Regions from separate parts of the Homo sapiens genome. Here region 1 is linked to region 2. The links come from fine-mapping of genetic effects on gene expression. A gene starts in region 2. The other region holds a variant in brackets. All regions are shown on one strand. Distances are from middle to middle.

Region 1 (8,339 bases), 32 kb before region 2:
TATCCATCATATCTACGTTTGTGATTATGTCGCTTAGGTCTTTTTATATCTTTATTTTCAGTCAAATTGATTTGAGAGGATGTGCTGCTTTTTCGAAACTGAGATGTAGAGAGGCCGAGGAGGTGCCAGTTCCTGCGGGAAGGTAGAGTATGGAGAAATCACAGGGTCTGTAGATCATCTCCAATCAAACATCACTCTGGCTGTAAAGAAAGGCCCCTGCCCCAAAATTCAACAAGGTCTATATTTTCTCATTTTTATTGGTATTATTTGAAAGGAGGAAGAATCAACTTTTTATTCAATCAGGTAATTTTTTATTGTTTTCTATCTTTCCTATACATAAATTTTGTTTCCCAAATCAAGTTGGAAAACTCAGTCCTCCTTTTATATCTCCATGGTGGGTAGGACAAGGTCTACTCATGGCTTGGTGGGGGATTTTAAATGGTGATGTTGCTAATAATTACACCTAAGCACTTACTATGAGACAAGTTCTCTTCTAGATATTTTGTATGTTTTAGATTATTTAACTCTTACATCAATTTATAATGCCACCATTTTACAAATTAAAAAAAAAAAAAGCAAGGCACGTGGACGTAAAATAACTTGCGCAGGTTCAAACTGCTAGTGAGCAGCAGAGCCGGGGCCCCAGCCTGAGACACTGTGCTCTGTTGCCGCTTTTAGAGACCAACTCACCCACTGGCTTCACTACATGCGTGAAGAAACAGGAACTTGAGTCTGCTAAGCAAGCTGCCGGGAGAACTAAAACTAGACCCCTGGTATTTGGACCTTTATCCAGAGCCTTCCTGCTGTGCATCGCTGCCCCTCACAATGCACAGAAGCTGTATTTGTGGCAGCAAGAGGTTGTCATTTGCTGGATGACATGGGTTAATGGTTTAATAGCAACTCCTGCCTACCTCACCTCACAGGACTGCAGGGCCAGCACCATAGGAGAAATAAAGATGATGTAATCAAATATTATCTAAATAATGTATACTTTTTGAGTCCTGAATAAATCACCCAGCTGTGGAATACATTCATGTTTAATATTACTAGGATATATAAAATGATTTAGGACTGGGGGGATTGGAAGTAAAGAAAACTAAAATTCCACAAGGGCCAAATCCTTCTAGGTGGGAAGACTTGTATTTTTTATAAGCACCTCCTCTCTCTCCAATTCCCATGCACATGACCTTCATTCTTTGTTTATAGATTGTGGGTGTCACCCTTGGAAACAGGCATTTTCCCAGAACAAGTAAGAACTAATGTTAGCCAATAGGAGAGAATACTAGTCAGCCCTCAGGGGAGAGGATGGCCATTAAAATATAGTACATAAAGGGATGAGCTGCTGGTATTTATCTCCAAGTCCAGCTTGCAGAGCCTTTCTCTGTTGCCAAAAGTGATCTAACATCTCCCTGCATAGCTTGGCTTCAGATGGTGAGATTTTTATTATTTTTTCATTCCATTCCACATTCATTCCAGTAATTATGAAAAAAGAAAGGAGTTATGACATATCTGGGGAGACTGACCCAGTGTATCAACTTTACTAAGAAAGGACATAATGGTTTTGGCAAGATAAGAGAATTTCATTCGGAAATTCCAAAGACATTCTATCCCAGTGGAGTTACTTGACTTGCCAAAAATCAAAGTTGTTTAGCTGGGTGGGGCAGGGACCTAAGCCAGATGACTAAGGGTGACACTCCTGGACAATCCACACAAGAGGCTTTCAGAAAGGCATTCTGATGCTGTGACTGGTGGTGTTCCACCTGCATTCATTCACGATGAGCCAGCAAGGTGAGATCGACAGCAAGCCCCAGAAACCTGGCCCTCTAGTGACACAGAATCTCTGTGAGGGGTATGGGAACAGAAACAGCGGTCTTTATCTCAAATCGTGGCACTATAAAGTAGTCCCACTACCTGCCTACTTTGGGCCCTACAGCAGAAACTGAATAAAATGCATTCCTATTATCTTAAAGAAAAAATTGACTCACGAGCCCTCTAACCTAATATTAGTATGTGGTAAACGCCAGATGAAGATGAAAGTAGCTAAAATTTGGGATGAATTTCTTGGAGAGATTCTAGAATTTCCTTTCCCAGTTCTCCTAGTTTTCATTTCAAACAAGATTCTGAAATGGTCTCCTTGTGGTTCAGCTCAGACTCAAGAGAACTGCTTCAATGGTGTCTCCAACCCCCTTGGCCTAAATGTTCTCACTTGCAAAGAAGATTCCACTTAAGAGGAAGTGCAGCCGGTTAATGCTTAACTACAGCAACTCCTCCTCTACACCAAGTGAGAAAGTTGGGCTGGGCTGAAAAATGGTTAGTTTTGCATGAAACTGAGTGTAGGTATTGTTTGAAAACCAGAGAACCCCAGAACCTCAAATTTCATGGGCCTCCAAGATCATTTATTTCAAACCATATATCTAATTGCTCCAAAAAGAAAAAATCTCTGATCTGTTTGGCAAGCAGTTTTCTCTTCCCACAGAGGAACACAGTCAACTGTAGGGCCTCTGTAACTTACATGTCACATGGAATCCAGCCTTACTTGGTAAAGGGAACATTAGCAAAATATCTTAGTCATGGTCATTTGGTTACAAAGAACAGAAAACCACTCAACTTTTAAATCATTTTTAAAGAGTTTATTGGAAGGAAAGCACAGGTTTCAGGGGAAGTAGAAAAATGTCAGATGCTTTGTCTCCCTCCCTCCCTCTCGCTCTCCCCCATCCTCCCCTTTTCCTCATCTCCAACTTCTGCTTCTCTCTGTAACTCATGCCTTTCTCTTGCTTTTGCAGCTTCCACTTCATTATGATTTTTTGGCTCTGACATAGGACAGTTTTTTTTGTTTGTTTTCTGTTTTTTACGTTTACCCTCATTTTTGTCATATTTTATTTTTTTCTGTGGAGAACCAGCCATGGGAATTGGTTTTCAGCAATGGACACCTGACCTGACCAAAGCCAATAAATCATGAGACTTTTGCTGAGACTTCAGAGAGGTGGGATGTGGAGGGGAGAGGACATGAGGATGGAGCTGCCAAAGCCATCCTGCCACTGTGAAGCACAAGACTAAGGCCAACACAGCAGAAAGGGCAAAGGGCTGGAAAGAAGCTAAGTCCTGATGGAGGCTTTCTGAAGTC[T/C]GAATCCCAGCTGTCCGTGAGACCAGTCCTGCTTTTCATTTCATGAGTCAATCACTGTATTTCTTGCCTAAGTCATCCATTAGCACAGCTGTCAGCCTTGGATTGCCATTGAGTCAACCCCATTCCTCCACCTGGCCTTGCACTCCAGTTTCACGACTAGCCTAGTTAGGAAGGATGTGCTCAGGGGAAGTGCAGTTTAATGTGGTTTCTAGGATATTCTTTCCAGGGTAAAGGGGGGCAGAGGAAGAAAAAAATAATCAACCTCTTCCATTTATTTTCATTAATCAGAGTCCTTGATCTGACAATTAGCCTAATCATATTTTTACTGTCCTGTCTTCACTAAGGTCATGAATGTCAAAATATAAAAGATCAAAGTATGCAGAAATCACTTCAAACTTCATAAATAATGCTTGTGATTTTTTTCATATGCAAGTCTAATGAAAATTGAGAAAACGATGTGTGCATTTCATAGTTATTCTCTTCTGGACATGCCAACCTCGGTCTTAAAATTGAAGACTATATTTAATGACTTAGAGGTTCAAATGTAAGTCATAAATTAAATTGCATCTGGTAAGGTGTACCTTACATTCTGCTTCTTCATTATGAGACCATATAACCCAATTCTTTGATTTATAAATATTTCCACTTTAATAAGTCATGACGCAAATAATCTTTCTCCAAACCTCTTGTTTCAAGACATCCAACTTACTGCACCACAAAATAGTAAATCTCAGGCTCAGAACTCCTTTCTTTGCCAAGAATTATACTAGTGAAGTTGTTCCTTGCCTCAATTAAAACTTACACTTGTTTAGAAAGGGCAAGAGCATAACTTCCACATATATGTTTAAGTTCCACATCTAACATTGTATAGGAATAAACCAGATTCCACCAACTTTCTGTGTTGACACCCACAGGCAGTGCAGATTGCATCCTGGGAAAAAGAACAAGGGCCTGGCTCTATGCCCAGCTGTACATACTAGCTGTGTGGCCTTAGCAGGTTGTGTATAATCTCTCTAAGCCTCTGTTTCTTCACATATGAAGTACTGACCTTATACTTTATAGATTGTAATATCAACTTTATGGCTTTATTGGGGACTTGAAATGAGGTGGTGTATGTAAAGCACATAGTAGGCATTCAGTGTTCATTACCAGCTACTACTTAAGGTAATAATTGCCCTTCATAATAGAAACATTCATAATTCATAAATGTCCATTTCCTACCAGTTGTCAACATACATGCTATGTTGCTGTAAACCTTGCATAATTATAAAATTAAATTTCCATCTTTCATAAATTGAAATGTAACATCACGCTAAAGCTACTGAAATGTCTGATTCTGCCACTGACTGGTTGTAGAACTCGGGACAAACGTAATCAATTTGTGGCTTTGCTTCTGCGTTTGTAAAATGACAAGATTGGGCTGTTCTAAATGAATTTTAGTGCCTCTTCCAACTTTACCATTCTTCTGAGTCTTATATGTCAGTTAAATGGCTGTTTAATATATACGAGTCATCATGGGATAATTGCATGTTTATCGTAAAGAAACCCAAACTCCTCTCGGAGGAAGACAAACTGTTGACATCTAAAATTAGTCTCTCAAATAATATTACCTCATGAAAGAAAAAGAAGTGATGGTAGTACAATTCATGCTCAGATTTTGTAATTTGGGAAATCTCTAAAAATTGAGAGATGTAAGAGGTGATGACAGAATAATTCATATGCTCACATTTTGTAATTTTGGAAATCTCTAAAAATTATTCTCAAAGGTAGAAAGTGAAATTGAATTTAGGGACATAGAGATACTCACGGAAAAGTATGTAGCAGAACACACCATTAGGTCTACAATCTGCAACTCCATATATAAATAAGCCTCCAAACCCATGTTGCCTTAGTTATTGGAAATCCGAATGACTGACATATTTCTATTTTTCTAGAAATGCAAAACAGACTTGTGTAATTAACCATTCCTTTGGTATTTATTTTGAAACCAACTGTGCATTTCTTGGCCTCTTCACATACAAATAATGCCAACGCCTACGCAGTTCCACAGAATTCTTGAGCAGTTCTCACTCACTCTGCCCATTTTTTTCTTGCCCCCCTCTCCATTACCTCATAAATGGTGAACATTTCAGAAATAACGATCCCATTAGAAGAAGGTCTCTACATGTCGCCTGTAAGGCTTGAGAGGAAAAACTCAAAAGATGCCTTCACATAAAAGTGGGAAAGGGAGCAGAAATGAAATTTCTAATGGACATAGCAACACAAGAAAGCGCTGTGCATGAAGAACCCAGCTTCTCTCTGACAGATGGTACGCCATGCATGCAGCTAGATGAGCAGCGTTCAGGGGCTTGCTCCATTGCAAATACAGAAACAATAAAAATGCATGTTGATTTTTAAACAGATGTGTAATTAAGTATGACATTCTGATAGAGGTTTACCAAGGCAGAACAGCTGGATTTGAGGAGTCCTAATATGGGATACTGTTTAAGTTATTTAAATGTGATTCCTAGGATGGCAAAACTTCAAGAACTTCAACTTGTCTGTGTGTGTGTGTCTTTGTGTCTGTGGGTTTATGTCTGTGTGTGCATGTGTGAATACGACTGGATCTATGGCTTAAGGTGGTGCATACCCAGCTGAAATTTTCTTGGAGCTTAGAAAAGCAAAGGTTGCAACCCTTATACTCAGTTGCCCTGGGCAAGCAAGAAAAATATGTCAAGACCCAGGTCTTGCTGTTAAGGCTGGAGTTGAGAAATGCCCTCCAAATGCCTTCAAGTCAACATTAGCTATGACAGAAGCAAGACTATTATTTAACAATAGCAGCAAACGTCAAAAACAAACTGTGCCTGGCATTTTGACAAGACACTACTGAAAGAGAACCACTTTTTCAGCACTTGTGTAACCGTGGGGGAGAACTTGACAATTAATATCCTGAGGTCTGGTAACAGGATTTCCAGGCTGCTTGGTGGTTTCCTTCTGATACAAATGAAAGGAGTAGGCAAGTGGAGGACATGGGCAAAAATAATCCGAAACAATGAGGCCTAGAGAAAAGGACTGATACATCAGAAATCAGGTACCTTGTGGCTAATTAAAATGTAACTCCTCCCTCAGGAGACTGCACTCTCACGGTGGTGACACTATAAAGTATGAGGACAGAGCCATCATCCCTAGGTGAAAATAAGATGCTGACAAAATCTATCTCCTACCTCCCATCTCCTTTCCTCGCTCTCCAGCAGACTCATGCCATCCTGCGGCACCCTACCTAAGCTTCCCTCCATGGAAGCAGCCCCTGCCGGAACTGGCCAAACCCTCATCCCTGCCGTCAATCAATCAATTAATCAGTATAATAACAACCAGCCAGTTTCTGTCCTATGTCCTTAAGAATTTGCTCCCTGTTAACTAACCGATGAGTGGAGCTGTGGCAAGGTGTCAGCAAGCACAGTGATTCGTGTACTATGCTTCCTCTCATTTTGACAGAAACATTAGGGAAGCAACCTAATCCAAAGTAAATGCCAATGTGCTGGCTCCACACTCATGCTTTGAAGTGAATGAGGAGAGAGGGAAAGGAACCAATACTTCACTGGAAAGCCCTTATGAGCTAAGCCTTTGAAATGTTATCACAGTTAATGTTAACAGCCCTCAGACAAAAGTGGTATTGTGTCTCCATCTTACAGGTAGCAACCTGAAGTTTAGAAAGCATGAGGAACATGCCCAGCGTCCCAGTCTGCGAGTAACTCACCCAGAGTTAAAGCCTGCGTTCTCTCTCTCCCACAGCTGACTCTTCCCTGGCTCTCTCCACCACAACCCAAGATCACACACCTTGATCAGACTCAGAATGTTCTTTTTCTTTTTCTTTTTTGAGACGCAGTTTCACTCTTTTTGCCCAGGCTGCAGTGCAATGGCGTGATCTTGGCTCACCGCAACCTTCGCCTCCCAGGTTCAAGTGATTCTCCTGCCTCAGCCTTCCGAGTAGCTGGAATTACAGGCATGTGCCACCATGCCTGGCTAATTTTGTATTTTCAGTACAAACAGGGTTTCTCCATGTTGGTCAGGCTGGTCTCAAATTCCCGACCTCAGGTGATCCGCCTGCCTCGGCCTCCCAAAGTGCTGGGATTACAGGCGTGAGCCAACGCGCCCGGCCTTCTTTTTACATAAGAGCCTGGCAATGATGCTTTTTAATAAAGGGAACACCAGGAACTGTGGTGGGTGTGGCAGTCTTACTTGCAGGCCTCCTAAAAGGAACCCCCATGGACAGCTGTAGATCCTGCCTGAGAAGAAACATGAGTACAGGAGCCATTTAAATCCTCAAAGAGAAGCCAATCCCTATGTTTTAGAAGTCCTCCCTTCCACCCACTTCCTCTACCTGCGACTTTACTACCACCAGACCAGACTTTCGGTTCTTGAGAGAACATGCACGAATCTGTCCACGTGGGTTTCCTGTCCATACCATCCAAGGAGAAAGGCCTTGGCCTCCTCCAGCTGGGTCTGCTCCTTCCTTTGAACCCCATCGGTACCTATGCCCACACCTTTCAGAGCTTTCCTGATCAGTGTCAACATGCTGCTCTTCCTCTTACAAAATGTACCATCAATACAGCCCAGGCACATGGCTCCCACAAAGCTAGCCACTTATATAGTATGGGTCACATCAAAAATGACTCCAGCACAATCATTCATACAGACTTCTCTCACACTAAACCTTTAAACAAGGTGAGAAGTCAAAACCTGTGAAGACTGTCTCTTTTCAGCTGGGTGCAGTGGCTCACTCCTGAAATCTCAGCACTTTGGGAAGCTGAGGTAGGAGGATTGCTTGACCTCAGGAGTTTGAGACCAGCCTGGGCAACATACTGAGACCCAGTCTCTACAAAAAGTAAACAAAAGTAAACAAAATTAGCCAGGCACGCACCTGAGGTCCCAGCTACTAGGGAGACTGAGGTGGGAGGACTGCTTGCCCTGGCTGAAGGTTGAGGCTGTAGTGAGCCATGATCACACCACTGCACCACTGCACTCCAGCCTGGGTGTCAGAGGAAGACTCCATCTCTCAAAAAAAAAAAAAAAAAAAAAACCTATCTCTTTCCTATCTGTCAGATTTCCACATGGGTCTGGGTCTCTGGAAGCTGCAGCAGGACAGAACATCTGCTATGGAAAGGGGCTTGAGGTCCAAGTCAAGGTCATTCCCAGGCTTTCTAGAAATGCTTTTTATTAACTTTCTAAACAAACT
Region 2 (8,339 bases):
CTACAGAACTCTCCATCATCATCATCATCATCATCATCATCATCATCATCATCTGGTTGCTTTTGGCAAGGTTCAGTAGCTACAGAACTCTCCTTCATCATCATCATCATCATCATCTGGTTGCTTTTGGCAAGGTTCAGTAGCTACAGAACTCTCCTTCATCATCATCATCATCATCATCATCTGGTTGCTTTTGGCAAGGTTCAGTAGCTACAGAACTCTCCTCCTCCTCCTCCTCCTCCTCCTCATCATCATCATCTGGTTGCTTTTAGCAAGGTTCAGTAGCTACAGAACTCTCCTCCTCCTCCTCCTCCTCATCATCATCATAATCTGGTTGCTTTTAGCAAGGTTCAGTAGCTACAGAACTCTCCTCGTCCTCATCATCATCATCATCATCATCATCTGGTTGCTTTTAGCAAGGTTCAGTAGCTACAGAACTCTCCTCCTCATCATCATCATCATTATTCTTTATAGGGCACCCATTTATGGAAGGCCTACTCCCTGCCAGACATATAGTAACTCTACTCTTCAAAACAAACATAAAGGTAGACATTATCATCCTCATTTTACAGATGAGGCTACCAAGTCAAAGAGATTCAGCAATTTGCTTATGGTCACATGACATGCAGTATCAAAACTGAAATTCCACTTCAGGTCTGATTCCAAAACCCATCCTCTTGCCTCTATACCTTGAATTCCATTCCATCTCAACTGCTCAGACTTCTTTTTCGGCAGATGGTTCTATATAAAAGTGTTTGGTTACTGAAAAGATGGTTAGATGTTGAAATACCATCTCAACTATAATACACTCTCAGATAGTAAGCCAAAACAAGCAGGTGACTATACAATTGCACAAAGATGATGAGAATAAATGTAAAATCACCTTGAAATTTTCTTTAATAGTACTAGATCAAGGTGTGAAAATGTTTTAAAGTAAAAAGAAAAAATAGCAAACTAACACTCTGTATAAGAACATTAGTTGACTCTTTACTTCCCCAGATCCCAGTAGACACAGCACGTTGCCCTCACGTGCTGCTAACAGCTGCTAGAAGATGGGCATACTTTGAGTAACCCACATTGAGACAGCGTATCATTTGTTTCTGTTTGTGATTTTTCCAAAAGGGAATTAATGGAAAGGGGTATTTTATGTTTAATAGTATTTTTAAAAAGGAAAATAACTTCAGTTTAAAAAAGCTATTTCAGTCATGCTAGCCCCCATCTCACACTGACCAGCATTTGTCAAAGGGCACTGATATTTTAGGCAGGACAATTATTTGCTGTGTGAGACTGTTCTAAGCATTGCAAAACATTTAGCATCCCTGGCTCCCACCCACTAAATGCCCCCTCCCCTATTTGTGATAACCAAAACTGTCCCCACAATGAGAGCCACTGATTGCTACAGACTTCATTCTATTTCAAGACAGCTAGAGACTTTCTGTTTATTTATGTTTTCTACCACAGCTGCTTATTTAACCTTTCCTGGCAGTGCTTGTTTAGTTTTCTACTTCGCCCCAAAAGTTTTCCTTAAAAATAACACATTTGCTTGACATTTATTTGAATGAGATTCAAAAAGCTAATTTTGTAACTACATCATAATACAATAGTATATAATTACTGGTGACAAAAAATAAAAGCTTTAAGAAATAGCAGGGAACTGGGAAATCATCTATTCCAAGGGGTATGAGACCCCCATGCGAAACAAAACAAAAAAGTTGTATATATATGCATTTTTTTCTGGGATGAAAGTTCCATAATTTATATAAAGTACTCAAAAAAGTCCATGATCCAAACAAAGTAAAGAATCAGTAATCTAACAATTCTCTCACTCTATTAGCAAGGCCAATGACATGCAAAGTAGTCAACTGGATTAACAAGATTAAGACAGTACCATCAGTTCTTATTACCACAAACGTGTATAGTGAATGCCAGAAAATGACCAGACTCATCAAAGGGATAGAGGCGTCCACAAAACCATTTCACCCCCTACCATGCAACAATGAAATTCCTTTAAAAGCATGTTTATAATATCAGTTGCACACTAGAGGAGTCAGAGGAGTGGGTTATTTTCAAGGGAAAGTAAGCTCCCTTAGTTTACTTTGAAGTTTGTTTTTCTGATTTTGTACTGATACCATTTTCTTAAAACAAAGTGGATCTATATCTTTAAATATTAGTCTTACATTAATGATAAACTTGATGCTCCAAAATTTTTTTTAAAAATCTATATTTGAAAAATTTAGATTACTTGACAAATAATTTGCTGACCAGGGAAAAAGTCTCTGGTATAAAGATACTGTTTAAAGGACAATATGTCAATAGATTCTCGAAAACAATCTTGGTAAATAGGCAGGTGTTGTTAGTTTCCATTTTACAAAATAAAATAGGTTAAGTAACTTTCCAAGATCACAGAACTGTTACCAGGTAGCACCAGGACTAGGCTCACCCACTCTGACCCCATGTCCGGAGTTCTTCCTGCTTCACCACACTGCTTCCATTCACAAACATGGTACAAAACAATTTAAGTGCCACACAAGAAACCGTTTTTAAAATCATGTTGGTAAACTACTATTAATACCAAAATAATGTTTTCAACAATTCACAAAGAAAAACTTTCCACCAGACTTGAAAAATTCTACGCTGAGCCCTGGCCTAAAATTTCTGGAAAGTACAATACTAAACAAAAAGAAAAAAAGTTGAAATAATTTGCATAGATCAATGATGAATCATCAATACTGGAAAAACATTATTCCAGGTGTATGGCTGCCTATTAATGGATTGATATTATTACTTTCAGGTTAAAAAAGAGTTATAAGTGATTATGAGCTTCGTGAATAAAAATCAAGGTTCATGTTGGCCACTGAAACAACTTAGAGGCAACAAGCATTTGAAAACAAACACACATACAAAATCTTCTAGTAACCTTAAGAACCTGTTGCATTGTAACAACTGCAACACCCCCTAAAACCAAATGACAAGACCATTCCTCTTCCAATGATTAGCCGTAAAAGAAGTATTTTTACTCCCTCAGATAACCCTGTTTCTTCAGGTGCTTAGGTCACGTAAGCTACTAAATAATAAAGTTAAATTACTACCTCACATATTTTTCATCATATGCTCTCTTAATTAGAATAGCATTCTTGAAATAGAATAAGCACTAACATTAGAAAAAAACAGACTTAAATCAATGCAACAGTTTAATGCTCCCTAAATAAAAACACATCTACATGTATCATGGGCTAGAGACGTTAAAAATTTCTAGGAAGAAAAGCAATATTTGCCTTATAAACACTGCAACTCTTTCCTCTCAACATTAAAACCCAAACATAGAAACCAGTAAGTTAGCTGCATTTACAGCCCCTTACAGGTTTTAAATGTCACATCTCAGTGCCTAAAAAAGTTACTCCATCGTTTCGAGATAAGTTTCTGAGAACAAAGAAAACTCTTTAAACTACTGAACTGCATTTTATTCTTTCCTTTTCCGTGTGACCATCTGCAAAAGCAACAGTTGTCAGTTAAACAGAATCAACCTCTTTCCCGAGTGGACATGATTCACAGCTTGGTCACTGTACAGCAGATGTGAACTGAGAACTACGACATAACACAATGACAAAACACAGTACTGAGCACAAAGTACAGGGAAAGAATGAAAGACAGAAAACAGGAAGAGCACACGTCTGATTTTTGTTTTCTTTGGGGCCCCCATTAGTAGCATTCCCTTCATCCATCTTCATTCAGTGGTTCACTATCAGGGCCAAACCCAAAAGTTACAAAACACCATCTAGCTACTGTCTGGCTGCTTTTATTTTTTCTGCACCAGGACGGGAGCACGCATTCCCCTGCAGTCCTCAGCTCCACCGCAATACTGATACCAAACAGTTTCAGTGGCCCAGCTGCCAAGCCTAACCATTCCTTTTTAAAGCATTTCTTCATCAATCCTACAAAACAGCAAGTTCTTCATGGTATATTTTCCTAGAGCATCTAGCTAATATCATACTTTAACAACTTTTTCCAACGTTAACTGGACATGGGTCATTATCACTTAAGTGTTAGCGCCATTGCCCGCGCCCACTCCCATAATCCACACTGCTTTCCTTCTCCATATTGCCAATCCCCACTAAGCAACCCTAAAATCTAGTAATTATCATCAAATCCACTTCTAGGCCCTGGCAAGAATTATTTGGCTTTACCGAAACACCTATTCCATAGGTAACCAATTCCAGTCAAAAATGCCAGAGTATTACTCCTCAACCCAATGCCCTATCTCCTTAGTGGATTATAAACTTACTACGACAACCTGTCTTCTTTGGATCCAATCCCCGCCCAAGTCTGAGTCTTCTCTCCCAGGCTACAAGCCCCCAAGTCCTGGCAGCTCTATGCTTGACAGCTCGCTGACCTCCACCTCATCAGACCATTGGGTCGCCCTTCTCGCCGTCCTCCAGCCTTCTTCCCGCTCAGACACTCATCCACTGTCCGGGGAGCCTCGACCCCTCCTATACCCCCTCCCCGATCCCGCAGTCCCCTTCTGGACCTTGCGGACCCCTCTCAGGTAAGCGGAGCCCCTTGCCCTGCAGGCCCATCAGTGGTCCTGGCTCCCCGCACCTGCCACCAGGGTTCCCAGGCTGCAAAAACACAAGTAGTTCTTCTTCCCAAGGGCCACCCTCCTCCTCAGGCCGCTTTCCTCAGCACCACGTCACCCGCGCTTCGCCGGGAGACCCCCAACTCACCCCCGCCTCCGCCATCTTCTGGGACCAGCCCCCGTACCCCCTACCGCCTCTTCCTCCTCCACTCCCACAACTCCGCCCGAGCTCCACTGCGCCTGTGCGGCCAACGAGGCCGCGCGCAGGCGATCGGGGCAGAAGAGCTTCCGGTTCCTGCTGTCAATAAGACGTGGACCTGCGAGCCGGGGCAAAAGGGCTTCCGGTCTGCGGGAAACTGGAGGCTAGCGGTGGGCGTGGACCGTCGAGGTGACTGGCGGTTGTCGGATCTGCTGTTGTTTGCTGACCAGGCAGCCGTAGGTAATGACGGATGCCCAGACCCTGTGGGCGGAGTAAAGGAATCATGCACTGATACACGCACACTCACCGAGGGGCGCGTCCGTCTGCGTGCCCCTCATCTCGTAGCCGAAAGGAGCGCGTTCCGGGGCAGGCCTCCGGGTACTTCCCGCAGAGGACCGGGCTTTATACTCTTTGCTCCTTTTCCTCCCCTAGTAAGTCATAACTTATTTTGGGAGAAGGGCATAGTTATTTGTCTCTCGTCTCCATGCTACAGCACTTTATGTGCTTTTCATTCAAAATCGTTCCTCGAGGACGACCAAGTAATGTGATTTGGGGGACAGTTTTCATAGGAAGGGCTTTATAAGTTTACACCAACATAAAGAAAACTTAAAAACCTTATAACCGCTTATTTTTCAGAAGTATTATTTTTCATTTAATCTAAAACCATACTTTTAGAACATGAAACCAAGCCAAACAGATCTTTGCAGATTGTGCAAGCGAACTTTTTTTTTTGAATGAAAGTGGTGCCATCAATGCAAAAGCAAGCCCATATAAGTGCCGAAAGGTACTCGTCATAAGGAGGAGTTGCTTCCCTATTCTGAATTTTTATTTATTTTTATTTATTTATTTATTTGAGACGGAGTCTCTCTCTGTCACCCAGGCTGGAGTGCACTGGCATGATCTCGGCTCACTGCAACCTCTGCCTCCCGGGTTCAAGTGATTCTTCTGCCTCAGCCTCCCCAGTAGCTGGGACTACAGGTACATGCCACCATGTCTGCCTACTTTTTGTATTTTTAGTAGAGATGGAGTTTCATCATATTGGCCAGGCTGGTCTCAAACTCCTGACCTCGTGATTCGCCCGCCTCATCCTCCCAAAGTGCTGGGATTACAGGCGTGAGCTGCCCCCTGAATTTGTTTTTTTTAAGCAACTCTTTTTAAAAAGAGAGAAAAAATAATCTCTCTTGAGTGTATTAGTTATTGAGCTATTCCATTTGGAGGTGGCTTAACCCAAAACGTGTATGGATGTGGTAAGATTACAATGGACTTGAATGTTCTAGATGAAATCTGGGCCGAGAGTAATTGCATAATAGTTTTCCAAAGGACTGTCAGATGGTAAACTCCTTTCATTTACTTTGAACTGATAAACGATAAGATGGATTTTTGTTTTTTGACCTTTTTATCTACATTTACTTCTGAAAATTGAAAAAGAATCTGAATTCCAACAAAATGTTTCTAGGCAAGTATTTGCATGATGCTTCTCTAACATTTCCTATATCTTAGTGTTTTCTCTAATGTTTTCTGTAGCTTTCAAATTTCACTCCTGTAAGTTTTTACACTACCAGTAAGAAAGATCTGGGCCAATTATACAGAATGGACGATGATTTTTAAAAGAATAGAGAAAGCATTCAGAAAAGAGACAATAATTTGAAAATGTTCTGACATCATGTATTTCCTTAAAGCAATACAAGTCCTGTATGTCCAGTTCATGTCTACTCCAACCGAGCTTTTTTCAGACACTTAGAAATTGCCTTCAAGAAAATCCTTATGGAACATTGTAACCTAGAGGGGCATTTATTTTCGTTTAAATATGTATTAATTGCAAGTAGTGACAGAACCTAAAAAGCAAAAACCATATAGCACCAGTTCCAAGGTTCCTATATCTAATGCAGTTACTCCTACTGCAGTACAAGGAGGAATATAAAATCCCTAGGAGAAATACAAAAGGCCATTGTCTTCTTTGACCAGATTTGAGGAAAGTTTTCATGGAAGATGTGGTCTTTCAGTGGGCGTTGAGGGTAAATATGCAGATATGGTTAGCCTGTGCATTCTGGTGGAAGCTCAGAGTTGGAAAAACATGAAACAGATTGCAGAGTCTGGCATGTACAAAGAGGTATGGTGAGACATGTGAGTTCTAAACATCAGGCTCATGAATTTGGACTAAATTTTTGTTATGGAAACATGGAAATCCTAAATTAATTGATGCCAGAATATAAATTGGTTAAGAACATCAAGAAATCATAACAACTGAGTTATTTTGAAGTTGGTGTAATGTGGTCAATGGAACGCTGGTGAATGATCCTTGAAACCTGGATTGTATTTTAGCACTAAGACAGTATGCGTGTAATCACTTGCAATAAATTCATTTTTTTAGGCTTTCTTCTTTTCATCTGTAAAATGAGAGATTGGTTTAGATGATTTCTGAGGTCTTTTTTATAGGTAGAAGTATCAACAATTTGATAATTCTTGACCTCAAGAAAGGTTTTTTCCATTAGCTTTATATGTTGTTTGGTCTCCCAACCAAGAAGATCAAAGATAAGTTAGAAAACAAAAAGCCCTTTACTTAGCTAATACAAACACCCACAAAAGTTTATTGACTTTGTTGGAGTGAGATATTGTAGGAGTCACATTAATTATTGCCTACAGGTTGATGACTAAGCCATTCAGTAAGCCTCTAAGAACCTTGGACTTGGAAACATTACCCAAATTAAAAACATCCAAGATAATTTTTTTACTATTGCAATTTTCCTATTCAGTAGCTAGAACCCCACACACTACAGACCATTCTACTTTTTTGGTTTTGGTTTTTGTTACGGTGTTTTGATGTGAAATATGTTTGAGGGACATAGAAAGTCAAGGAATTTTGCTTTTTTGAGAGATCAGAATGGATTATTTACTAAGCCAGCTATCACCTGAGCACCTGGCAGGTACCAGACACTTGGCACTGGACTTTAGGAGGAAATCAATACAGACAAGCCACATTCCTTTGTGAAGCTAGAGTCCTGTGGGGGAAACACAGTAAATGGTGGAATTCATATGTAATTACAAACTGAGACAAGTGCCATGAAGATGGAACATCTCCATATTGTGATGGAGAATAAAGGGGAATACCTGGAGACCATGCGTGAGCTGAAGATTGAGAGGGATCTGCTAAGAGCAGGATGAAGAACAGGTGTGAGGGCACAAAAGCTGAAAAACTTGGTGCATTCTGGGAATTGAAAGAAAGGCAGAGCTGGGGGTAGCAATTGAAAAGAAAATTGCAAATTGAAGTTGTATTTTAACATCATGATTGATGGTAATCACTTTCTGTGTGCCAGGCACTGTGCTAAGTTAAATCTCATTTCACATGCTCAAAACCCATTTGAAATAGATACCAAATAGCAGATGAGAAATTAAGGCTAAAAGCAGTGATTCTTAACTTTGGCTGCATATTAGGATCACCCATAGATTTATTAAAAGTTCTAGTGCCCGAGCCCCACCTGAGCGTTGAGAATCACTGACTTAGTGTTAATCAGTCCAAGGTCACTTCATAGCTAAGTGGCAGAGAAGGCAGAAATTGAACCTAGATCT

Alleles and levels. Alleles are on the strand shown, and positions count from the first base shown. SD is a standard deviation of normalised expression in the study named.
In carriers of allele T in region 1, the expression in subcutaneous fat of the gene that starts at base 4,792 in region 2 tends to be higher than with C alone (moderate effect, 0.72 SD a copy in GTEx).

Evidence for each region. PIP is the estimated chance that this variant, and not a neighbour inherited with it, causes the effect.
Region 1: its variant is fine-mapped to the expression of INSIG2 in subcutaneous fat (GTEx, PIP 0.98).

What each region holds. Positions count from the first base shown.
Region 1 is chr2:118,117,038-118,125,376 of GRCh38, reverse strand. No RefSeq gene overlaps it. Among named protein-coding and RNA genes, the nearest start is that of INSIG2, 33 kb to the right of the region's middle. RefSeq lists an enhancer at 1,159-2,358. The variant T/C (reference allele first, on the strand shown) is at 3,125.
Region 2 is chr2:118,084,924-118,093,262 of GRCh38, reverse strand. It overlaps INSIG2 (insulin induced gene 2), which reads right to left and starts at 4,792. Exons shown (of 6, transcript NM_016133.4): 1 at 4,722-4,792. LOC107985940 (a long non-coding RNA gene) reads left to right here and starts at 4,832. Exons shown (of 3, transcript XR_001739662.3): 1 at 4,832-5,012. RefSeq lists enhancers at 4,838-5,027, 5,038-5,087.